Homo sapiens: one gene and its partners. The protein of the gene in region 2 purifies or fractionates together with the protein of the main gene of each other region. This does not show direct contact. Each region holds a gene or a part of one and is shown on either strand. Other genes may lie near its edges. The genes, in order: XPO4, GPR34 and NDUFC2.

What was found.
Region 1: the proteins of GPR34 (region 2) and XPO4 purify together in Homo sapiens (affinity purification with mass spectrometry; one large-scale study listed by BioGRID and IntAct). This does not show direct contact.
Region 3: the proteins of GPR34 (region 2) and NDUFC2 purify together in Homo sapiens (affinity purification with mass spectrometry; one large-scale study listed by BioGRID and IntAct). This does not show direct contact.

The regions. Positions count from the first base shown.
Region 1 is NC_000013.11:20,892,688-20,896,344, forward strand, and holds part of XPO4 (exportin-4), read right to left. Parts: intron 1-3,657. UniProt on the Homo sapiens protein: Mediates the nuclear export of proteins (cargos), such as EIF5A, SMAD3 and isoform M2 of PKM (PKM2). In the nucleus binds cooperatively to its cargo and to the GTPase Ran in its active GTP-bound form.
Region 2 is NC_000023.11:41,691,925-41,694,982, forward strand, and holds part of GPR34 (probable G-protein coupled receptor 34), read left to right. Parts: intron 1-3,058.
Region 3 is NC_000011.10:78,069,788-78,073,444, forward strand, and holds part of NDUFC2 (NADH dehydrogenase [ubiquinone] 1 subunit C2), read right to left. Parts: intron 3,355-3,657; coding exon 3,211-3,354; intron 250-3,210; coding exon 200-249; 3' UTR 124-199; coding exon of another isoform or gene 86-123; 3' UTR 1-85. Other genes in the region: NDUFC2-KCTD14 (NADH dehydrogenase [ubiquinone] 1 subunit C2, isoform 2), read right to left, coding at 3,211-3,354.

The DNA of each region.
Region 1 (3,657 bases), on a different chromosome or scaffold from region 2:
ACCCTGGGCAATACAGCAAGATTTCGTCTCTACAAAAACATTGTAACATAGCCAGGTGTGGTGGCGTGCACCTGTGGTCCCACCTACTCGGGAGGCTAAAGGGGGAGGATCGCTTCAGCCCAGGAGTTTGAGGCTGCAGTGAGTCATGATCACACCACTGCATTCCAGCTGGGTTTTAGAGTAACTCCAAAAAGTAAAAAATAAAAAAAAAAAAATAAAAGAACTACACTGTTATAAAAGGACAGGTGAATCTCACCTTTCAGGCAGGCTAAGGAAGGCTTCCCTGAGAAACTGACTACTGAGAGAACTGAAGGATGAAGTGACAGGGAAGAAAAGCATTCCAGACAGAAGGACTAGTATATGAGAGGCCCTGTGACAGGACACAGGACACAAGTGGGAAGGGTTGCAAAAAAGCTAGTGTGGCTGATGAAGAGAAAAAGCGACTGGAAAAGAGTCAACAGAAGCTGGAAAGGCAGTAACTTATCCAAAGCCTCACAAGGTGCAAACATTTTTAAAGAAAAATGCTTTATATTTCACAACACTTAATGGCACTTTTCCCCTGCTTTTTGTGAACAAGAGGCCTTACATTTTCATTTTCACTGGGCCCTGCAAATTATGTAGGTAGCCCTGGCTGGACAACAAAGACAGTGGACAGAAACAGTCTTATGGCTCGGATACAAGGCAGAGGCCACCCACTCACTATACTGACCCTTCAGACCCACTAAGAAAGACAAAAAAGATGAGGATATGGAATGAAACACGGTCTCCATGGCCAAGCACGGTGGCTCATGCCTGTAATCCCAGCACTTTGGGAGGCCGAGGTGGGAGGATCACGAGGTCAGGAGTTCGAGACCAGTCTAGCCAACATGGTGAAACTCCCTCACATGGTGAAACCCCGTCTCTACTAAAAATACAAAAATTAGCCGGGCATGGTGGCACGTGCCTGTAATCCCAGGAACACAGGAGGCCAAGTCAGGAGAATTGCTTGAACCTGGGAGGCGGAGGTTGCGGAGGTTGCAATGAGCCTAAACGTGCATTGCGCCACTGCACTCCTGGCTGACAGGGTGAGACTCTGTCTCAAAAAAAAAAAAAAAGAAAGAAACATGGCCTCCTAAATTAGAACCTCCGTAGGTAAGGCAAAGGAAACTGCAGTTTTTTGTTTTGTTTTGTTTTTGAAACAGAGTTCGCTCTTGTTGCCCAGGCTGGAGTGCAATGGCATGATCTTGGCTCACTGCATTCTCCGCCTCCCGGGTTCAAGTGATTCTCCTGCCTCAGCCTCCCGAGTAGCTGGGAATACAGGCATGCGCCACCACACCAGCTAATTTTGTATTTTTAGTAGAGACAGGGTTTCTCCATGTTGGTCAGGCTGGTCTCGAACTCCCAACCTCAGGTGATCTGCCCGCCTCAGCCTCCCAAAGTGCTGGGATTACAGGTGTAAGCCACGGTGTCCAGCCAGAAATCTGCAGTTTTAATAATCACCCTAAGATTGGTTATGCATGTTCTAAACTCTGAAAAACCCTTCTCTAAAATATTGTCAAATTACAATGGACCTAATTTTTCCCATAATTACAAACAGAGAAAGAGTGAATCCCTATCTCTTTTTCAGAATAAAGTTTATTAGTTTTCTATTAGCTCTTTCTCACTCAAAAGACATTTTTCCTTTTATTTATTCACAAGGTTATATTATACTTAGCAGTGATTAAACAAATCTGTGGAAATGGAATGCCCTGCATTTGCATTTATAAGTCTATAAATGCAAAACCACAAACCTAGTCTTAGTCTGAACCATGATACAGCTTTGAACATTCTTCAACATAAAAATAATTGCAGGACATTCAAGGAAGTAGATTTTAAAAGTAGATTTTTTTTTTGGCCGGGTGTGGTGGCTCACGTCTATAATCCCAGCACTTTGGGAGGCCAAGGCAGGTGGATCACCTGAGGGTCAGGAGTTCAAGACCAGCCTGGCCAACATGGTAAAACCCCGTCTCTACTAAAAATACAAAAAATTAGCCAGGCATCATGGCAGGCACCTGTAAATCCCAGCTACTGGGGAGGCTAAGGCAGGAGAATCACTTGAACCCAGGAGGTGTAGGTTGCAGTGAGCCGAGATGGCGCCATTGCACTCCAGCCTGGGCAACAAGAGTGAAACTTCATCTCAAAGAAAAAAAAAAAAAAAGGTAGATTTTTTTAAAACACATGCAACATTCAGGCTGGGTGTGGTATCTCACGCCTGTAATCCCAGCATTCTGGAAGGCCGAGGCGAGCGGATCACCTGAGGTCAGGAGTTTGAGAACAGCCTGGTCAACATGGTAAAATACTGTCTCTACTAAAAACACCAAAATTAGCCAGGCATGGTGGCGTGCACCTGTAGTCCCAGCTACTCTAGAGGCTGAAGCAGGATAATTGCTTGAACCCGGGAGGCAGGGGTGGCAGGGAGCCGAGATTGCGCCACTGCACTCCAGCCTAGGCAACAGAGTGAGACTCCATCTCAAAGAAAAGAAAATAGAAATGCATGCAACATTCAAATTTACTAAAACGGAGTATTAATTTATGGTCTAAATTTTTATATTGTAAAAAATTCAAACTATATTAAAACTATATTAAGCACTCCTCCCATGTGCAATCTCATTCCCTATGCAGCCATTCTTAGAAGTTTAGTATAGGCCAGGCACAGTGGCTCACAGCTGTAATCCTAGCACTTTGGGAGGCTGAAGCTGGCAGATCACCTGTGATCAGAAGTTCAAAACCAGCCTGGCCAACAAGGTGAAACCCTGTCCCTACTACAAACACAAAAATTAGCTGGGTGTGGTGGTGCATGCCTGTAATCCTAGCTACTCGGGAGGCTGAGGAAGGAGAATCACTTGAACCTGAGAGGCAGAAGTTGCAGTGAGCCGAGATCGCACCATTGCACTCCAGCCTGGGTGACAGAGCAAGACTCTGTCTCAAAAAAAAAAAAAGAAGTTTAGTATAAGCCTTCCATTTCCGTTTCTATGCATATACAAATATATACAGAACTTTTTCTAGAAAACAGAAATGGGATCATATATTCTATTCTGCAATTTTTCGTCTTATTTTGAGTATCTTTCCATGTTCATTCAGATCTTCCCATTTAAAAAAAAAGCTATCACATTTTAGATATACCATATTTTTTAAGAGTTCCATAAAATTCCATTATAAAGAATACCAGTATATTAAATCAATTTGGTGTAACTGGACATTTACGTTGTTTCAATCTTCACTACAGCAAAGTACACTACAGTAAACATTCTTTGTGTATAAGCAAGTATTTCCATAAACTGAATAAATGGCCAGAAGTGAAATAGCTGGGGGTCAGCTATATATTGAAGGCTCTTGTATCGAAAACTTGTAGCATACTTCCCTATACCTTTACAATGTGAAATAACATTTTATTCTTAGTTCTGTTTCTAGACTATTCTAACTTTCTATTCTTTTCCTATGCCAATGCTATGTTTCAATTACTTTAGCTTCTGAATACATTGTAATAGTTGCTACATCAAGTCCCCAAACCCTTCACAGACTTCCAGATATATTTTCTAATCAATTAATTTTTCTCCCACCTCAGAAAAGGGTGAGGAGGAAAGAGAGATTTTGATTGACATTATATTCAATTTAGAGATGAATGAGGGAGAAATTGCC
Region 2 (3,058 bases):
TTTTATTTTAGAGACAGGTTCATGCTATGTTGCCTTGGCTGGCAGGCTGGTCTTGAACTCCTGGTCTCAAGTGATTCTCCAGCCTCAGTCTCCCAAAGTGTTGGGATTACAGGCGTGAGCCACTGTACCTGGCCAACCTTTTGATCTTTCATTACCTCTTTTGTGATACCTACCTCACAGAGTATTGCAAGAATTATGTAAAGGAAGTAATATAAATGTGTTTAACACAGTGTCTGGTACACAGAAAGTACTAAATAAATATTAGTTAATGGTTTGGCCATCTAGCTTAAGAGTTCAATTCTGACTGCACATTAAAATCCCCTAAGGAGCTTTTAAAGGAAACCAGTGCCTGAAACCCATTCCAGACCAATTAAATCAGAATATCTGGGGAAGGAGCCAAGCACTGGTATCTTTAAAAAACCCTCAAGAGGATTCTAATATGCAGCCAGGATTGAGAACCACTGATAATCCCTTCTACAAAGAACCCAATTGGTGGTAGTCTCAAAAATCTCCAGTGGTAAGATCCTTATATTGCCTCCCAAGAGAGATCATTTCATTAGAAAAAAATGATTTCCTTAAAAGGAGGCAACATCTGTCTCTGCAATTTCTATCATTGGTTCTTGTTTTGCTTTGTGAAGACACATATAACAAAGTGAAACCCTTTTCTCTATGGCTTTGTAAAGCATTCTCATCTCCAGGGTAACGTGCCTATTTCCTTCAACTTGCTTCTTTGACATGATTTGAGTTCTTCTCTCCATTTGGTCCATGGCCTTTTCTAAGTGTGCTGCTGTGGATCAAACACTGCATTCCAGGTGAGACCCTACCAGCCTGGGACAGAAGCAGCATAGTAGTAACAATTTTCATTTCAGACATCACGTATCTAGGAATTCAACTAAAGATGGGTTTTTCGTTGCCACCACACTACGCTAGTGATAGAGCAATTGCAATTGTGTTTGTTAATGCAGCTAAAGCTCTTCCTGTACTTGTACAGCTGCTTTTAATATCCACATGTAGAACTTCATATACATTTCTACTAAATTCCCTCTTTGATTTAATAATATTTATTATGCTAAGCATTAGGTACAGAGAGCCGAACAAAATTGACTTGGTTCTTAATCCTAATGGAACTTAAATTCTAACATGAGAGAAGAAAAAAAATCCAAAATAACTACTCACAGGTGAGTTTTTCACGTCATTTCAGCTACTTGAGCTCTCAAAATCACATTACTTCTTGTGCCTCAATTCCCTGAACCTATGAGAGCTCCCTACATAACCACACAATATAGGTGGTTCCTCTACAGACACCCTTTTCCTTTTCCTGGTAATGCAGGTTGCATTATCAGTTTCATTTTTGGTAGCCTGACATTCTTTCTAGATTGCCCTTTCCTTTTAGAATCTTAGATCACAGGTTGGGCATAGTGGCTCACACCTGTAATTCCAGCACTTTGGGAGGCCGAAGTGGGCAGATCACCTGAGGTCAGGAGTTCGAGACCAGCCTGGCCAACGTGGTGAAACCCCATCTCTACTAAAAATACAAAAATTAGCCGGGCATGGTGGCGGGCGCCTGTAATCCCAGCTACTCGGGAGGCTGAGGCAGGAGAATCGCTTGAAGCCAGGGGGCGGAGGTTGCAGTGAGCCGAGATCACGCCATTGCACTCTAGCCTGGGTGACAAGAGCAAAACTCTGTCTCAAAAACAAAACAAAACAAACAAACAAACAAAAACCAGAATCTTAGATCACAAGAAACATGCCTATACCTTTCTATAAACTTTCTGAAATTTGTCTTCCTGCAGTTGAGACACATGACAGACTAGACTCAGTCCTTCCCCGCTCCCTTCCTTTCTCCCTCCACTTTCCTGAATTCTGGAAACAGGCTCTTACCAGGGATTACATAACTTCCTCTTCACCAGCCAGTTCCTCTTCTGTGGAATCAATGCTCCCCAACTTTACAACATTTTAAATCTTAATGTTACCCTCTACCAAAATGCTTTGTTTTTAATCAAATTATGTGTAGAGCTTTAAGAAAGGCTATTTTTCTCTGTGTATAAGATCAAATCAGGGACTTAATTTATGTAATTCAAATCCACTTTGCATGGTAGCAGTCAGGGTTTGAATGTCCACTCCTCCAAAATGTTTACTAATAGGGTCTCTGTCTTATTCACCTTCCTTTCCCACACAGTACTTAGCCAAGTGTGAGATATTTACTAAAATGAGATTAATCAAAAGGTGTTTATTAAAGCTAACTTTTATTAAGCAGTCACTATGTGCCAGGATTAAGTTCTTCTTATGCATTTTTCATTTTCACAAATGAGAAAACTAAGGCATAGAAAAGATTAAGTTATTTGCCCTTGGTCACAAGTTAGTTGGGTCTGATTTTGAGAACCTTGCTCTGGGCATCTTTATGTTAACCCTGCTAAGTGGCTGCTGTAGAGAAATAGGGCAGTCACTCTATGAGAGGAATGTGATGAGACCTCCAGAAATGCTTTCTTTACTTGTTATGACCAGCTCTCAGACTAAGCTCTTTACAGCAGTCAATGGGCCAATAATAAGTAGCTTTGCAAATATTCTCTGCTGCCACAAACAAGTAGAATTCAAACACTATCTCTTCGAAGGTTCTAGCAAGTCTCAAATTATTGAACCCAGGGCACATTTAAGCTTTGGTCAGGTTACTTTCAAAATCTTGGATTGCACATGCTGTTTCCCATCTACGTTATTACTCTATGCTTCTAGGTTAGGAGTGGCTAACTGGCAGCTGCCAGCTAACTTGGTTTTGTTTGGTTACTTTTTTCTCCTGTCCAGTGATACAAGAGTCTGTGTAACCTTGCAGGTGCTGTATTCTCTTAGTCTATTATGTTAATTGCATGCCCTAAGACCCCTACCTTGGTCTTAGGCTGAAAAGAAATTTAGGATCCTCTTCTTTATTCCCACTTATAGAATGAGACCACCACAAGTCACACGCCATGTAGCAATACATGTCAAAATGAATGAATGCCACATATGAGGGAAAAAGTCAAGGCAGGAAGTGGTTCTGAAGCTGGGCAGGGCCAGCAGTGGGCCC
Region 3 (3,657 bases), on a different chromosome or scaffold from region 2:
GTGAATGGAAACTGACCATTCTCTGATGATGAACTATTTTTCTTACAACAATAAAGAGTCAGAGTACTCATGGTACGTATTTTAATTACAAGGTGTCAACATACAGATTAGCATAAGCTTCAACTGTCATAAGAAACATGTTCCATCAAATTCAGAAACAGCAGGTATCAGTGAAACTGGAGCAAGCATTTTGAAGACTTCAACGTATTGGATGGAATTTTTCAAAAATTTCACCATATGTTTTCTTATCTATAAAAGGAAAGATCATAAAAGATTTATTTTAAAAATATGTTTTAAAAATTGTATTTCCTAAACGAAAATTAACACTCACTAATCTTATGATTGAAATCCTGCTGTGGTCTGAATGTTCATGTCCCCCCAAAGTTCATAAATTGAAATGTAACCCCCAAGATAACGATATTAAGAGGTTAGGACTTTGGGAGGTGATTAGGTCACAAAGGCTCTGTCCTCATGAGGGGGATCGGCTTAGGGGACCTTGTTTGCCTCTTCTACCATGTGAGGACACAGCAAGATGGCATCATCTATGAAGCAGAGTGGGCCCTCAGCAGACACCAACTGTGCTGGTACCCTGATCTTGGACTTCCCAGCCTCCAGAATTGCAAGCAATAAATTTCTATTACTTATATATTACCCAGTCTATTCTGCAATTATACAGGTGGTAAGAAAAACAAAGTTAAAAAATTTTTTTTAATTACCCAGTTTAAGGCATTTTGTTATAGTAGGCCAAACGGACTAAGACAAACCCCTAAGAATTTCCTTATTTTCTTGTCCTTGACTATGGCTTGGTAATCACTGAAGGATTTTCTTTCATTGACTGAAGAATAACTTTGGAGGAATCTGTGATGACAACCAAATGACTGCCAAGAGGGACAAGGTGCTGCCAGGAGTATCCTGACTGAAGAGGTGAAGGAAGAAATAAACACAGAGGGGCACAGGTCAGCTAGGAGAGGCCAACAGCCAATGTGGTCAAGCTCTCCGGGCTCCCACTGTCTGTGCATGAGGCTCTTGGCACAACTGCCACTAATCTGCAGCTCAGAAAGAGAATGAGCCCTGAAGCTATACACACTCCTGCAGACACAGGGAACTCATGGAACTATGTCTAGGCAAAGAGCCAGAGGTCTGAGACTGAAGACTCCTCAAGCCACTGGGCCTCACTCCTAGTAATCAATATATCCAAGATGACTTCCAGCTCTAACATTTAACGGTTCTGGGTATTATGCATTCCCGATACATCCACTATTCATGGCTTTGTGCTAGTCTTTAAGCTCTTCTTTGGCAAAAAAAGAAACTGTATCTTTCTGATCCACCATAAATATCATATATGTGACTGAAGGCTGTGGGAATATTAAAGAGTAATAAAATTTTAGAGCTAAATAAGACCTTAGAGATCATTCAGTGTAATGAAATTTAAATGTTTTATATCACGCATTTACATTAACAGAAGAATTTTTTTTTTTTTTTTTTTTTGAGACAGGGTCTCGCTCTGTCACCTAGGCTGGAATGCAGTGGTGTGATCACGGCTCACGGCACCTTGTCCTCCCAGGCTCAAGTAATCCTCCTGCCTCAGCCTCCCAAGTCAATGGGTCTATAGGCATGTGCCACCTCACCCAGCTAATTTTTTAATTTTCTGTAGAGATGAGGTCTCACTATGTTGCCGAGACTGGGGAAAATCTATTTATGTTTACAAGTTCAAATTTTTTCTATACTCATTCATTTACACATTTAATAAGGCTATGTGTGCCAAACCCCTGGGGAAACCAAAAAAAACTGTCGTAGTAGTTAAACTCCCAGCCTACAGATACTCATATATGTGCACATCTGTGTTGTGTATATGTGTGTAAAACACAGGTGAGAAAAGTTATATTACAACTATTAATAGATTCATAGCAGACTAGAGATAGAGCACCCTGAGGGAATGCCTGACTGTAGCTGGGTGAAAGCTTCACTGAGATAATAAAAGCAGAAATTTGCTAGGTGGATGGGGTGGAAACAGGGGCAAGAGGAAGAATAACATAGCAGGAAGAAGGTACAACATGTATAAAGTAATATAGGGCAGGTTCGGGACAAAGCATTTCACCAGGCAAATGATGAGTGATGAGGAATGAGGAAGTATTCCATACGGTTCATATCCACTATTATGCATAAGTAAGTGCCTGCTATGTGTAGGCTCTATACAAGAGGCTGGGGAAACAAAGACGAAGCTACAATCCATGAAGAACACACACATGTGTATATCATATGGTAGATAAGAATGTGGGTAAAGTGTTTCTACCAGAGGACAGGCAATTAGCTAACCTGGAGTAAATGAGCCATCCTAAGGAGTCTGGATTTTATCCACTAGGCAATGGATGACTTATTTATTTTATTTTAATTTTATTTTATTTTTTGAGACACAGTCTTGCTGTGACACCCAGGCTGGAGTGCAATGGCGCGATCTCAGCTCACTGCAACCTCCGCCTCCCAGGTTCAAGCGATTCTCCTGCCTCAGCCTCCCAAGTAGCTGGGCTTACAGGCACCCGCCATCATGCCCGGCTAATTTTTGTATTTCTAATAGAGACAGGGTTTCGCCATGTTGGCCAGGCTGGTCTCAAACTCCTGACCTCAGGTGATCTGCCCCGCTCGGCCCCCCAAAGTGCTGGGATTACAGGCGTGAGCCACTGCGACCAGCCGGATGACTATTTTAAACAGATGTGATCAGATTTGCTGTCATTGGAAATAAGACCAAAGCAAGTGGTGAGTTAAGAGGCAAGTGCAACAGTCCAAGCAAGAGATTAACAAGGCCTGAACCAGGGTAGTGGTAGTGGGAGAGGAGAGTTCAAAGTTAAGAAATATTTAGGAAGTAGAACTGATAAGACCTGATGACTAATGGGAAGTGAAAGAGAAAGACTTGATGATTCTCAGGCTTCTGGCTTGAGTGTCCAGGTGGACAGTAGTGCCATTCTCTGAAGCAGGACACAGAGGAGCAGGAGGTTTGGGAAGGCAGAGGGGATATGAGTTTTGTTTGCTGTCCAAAGGACACGGAGGTAGTCAGAAACTGGATATATTAATTCAAGAGAATTTTGGTCTATAGACTAAGATGTGGGAGTCAACAGAATTTAGAAGGTATCTAAAGCCATACACATGGATAAGATTAACCAGGGAAAATAATAATACAGTAAACACAGATTATCTAAAATTAACTTGAAATACCTTCTTCAGGAAAATCCTCTGGATGTAATTTCATATATCCAAACATTTCACGGTCCCTCACAGCATACAGGTAGTCTTCACGTTTTACAAGATAATATCCAGCAAAAAAAAAGGCCGTAATATATAGAAGCTGGCGATGCAAACCTGAAATTCAAATGACAAATCCCAAAGAAAGCAAAAATTAGTCCATGTGTATTAAGAGTTACATTTTTGGCTGGACGCAGTGGCTCACACCTGTAATCCCAGCACTTTGGGAGGCCAAGACAGGTGGATCACCTGAGGTCAGGAGTTCGAGACCAGCCTGGCCAACATGGTGAAACCCTGTCTCTACTAAAAATACAAAATTTGGCTGGGGGTGGTGGCGGGTGCCTGTAGTCTCAGCTACTTGGGAGGCTGAGGCAGGCGAATCATTGGAACCTGGGAGGCAGAGGTTGCAGTAAGCTGATA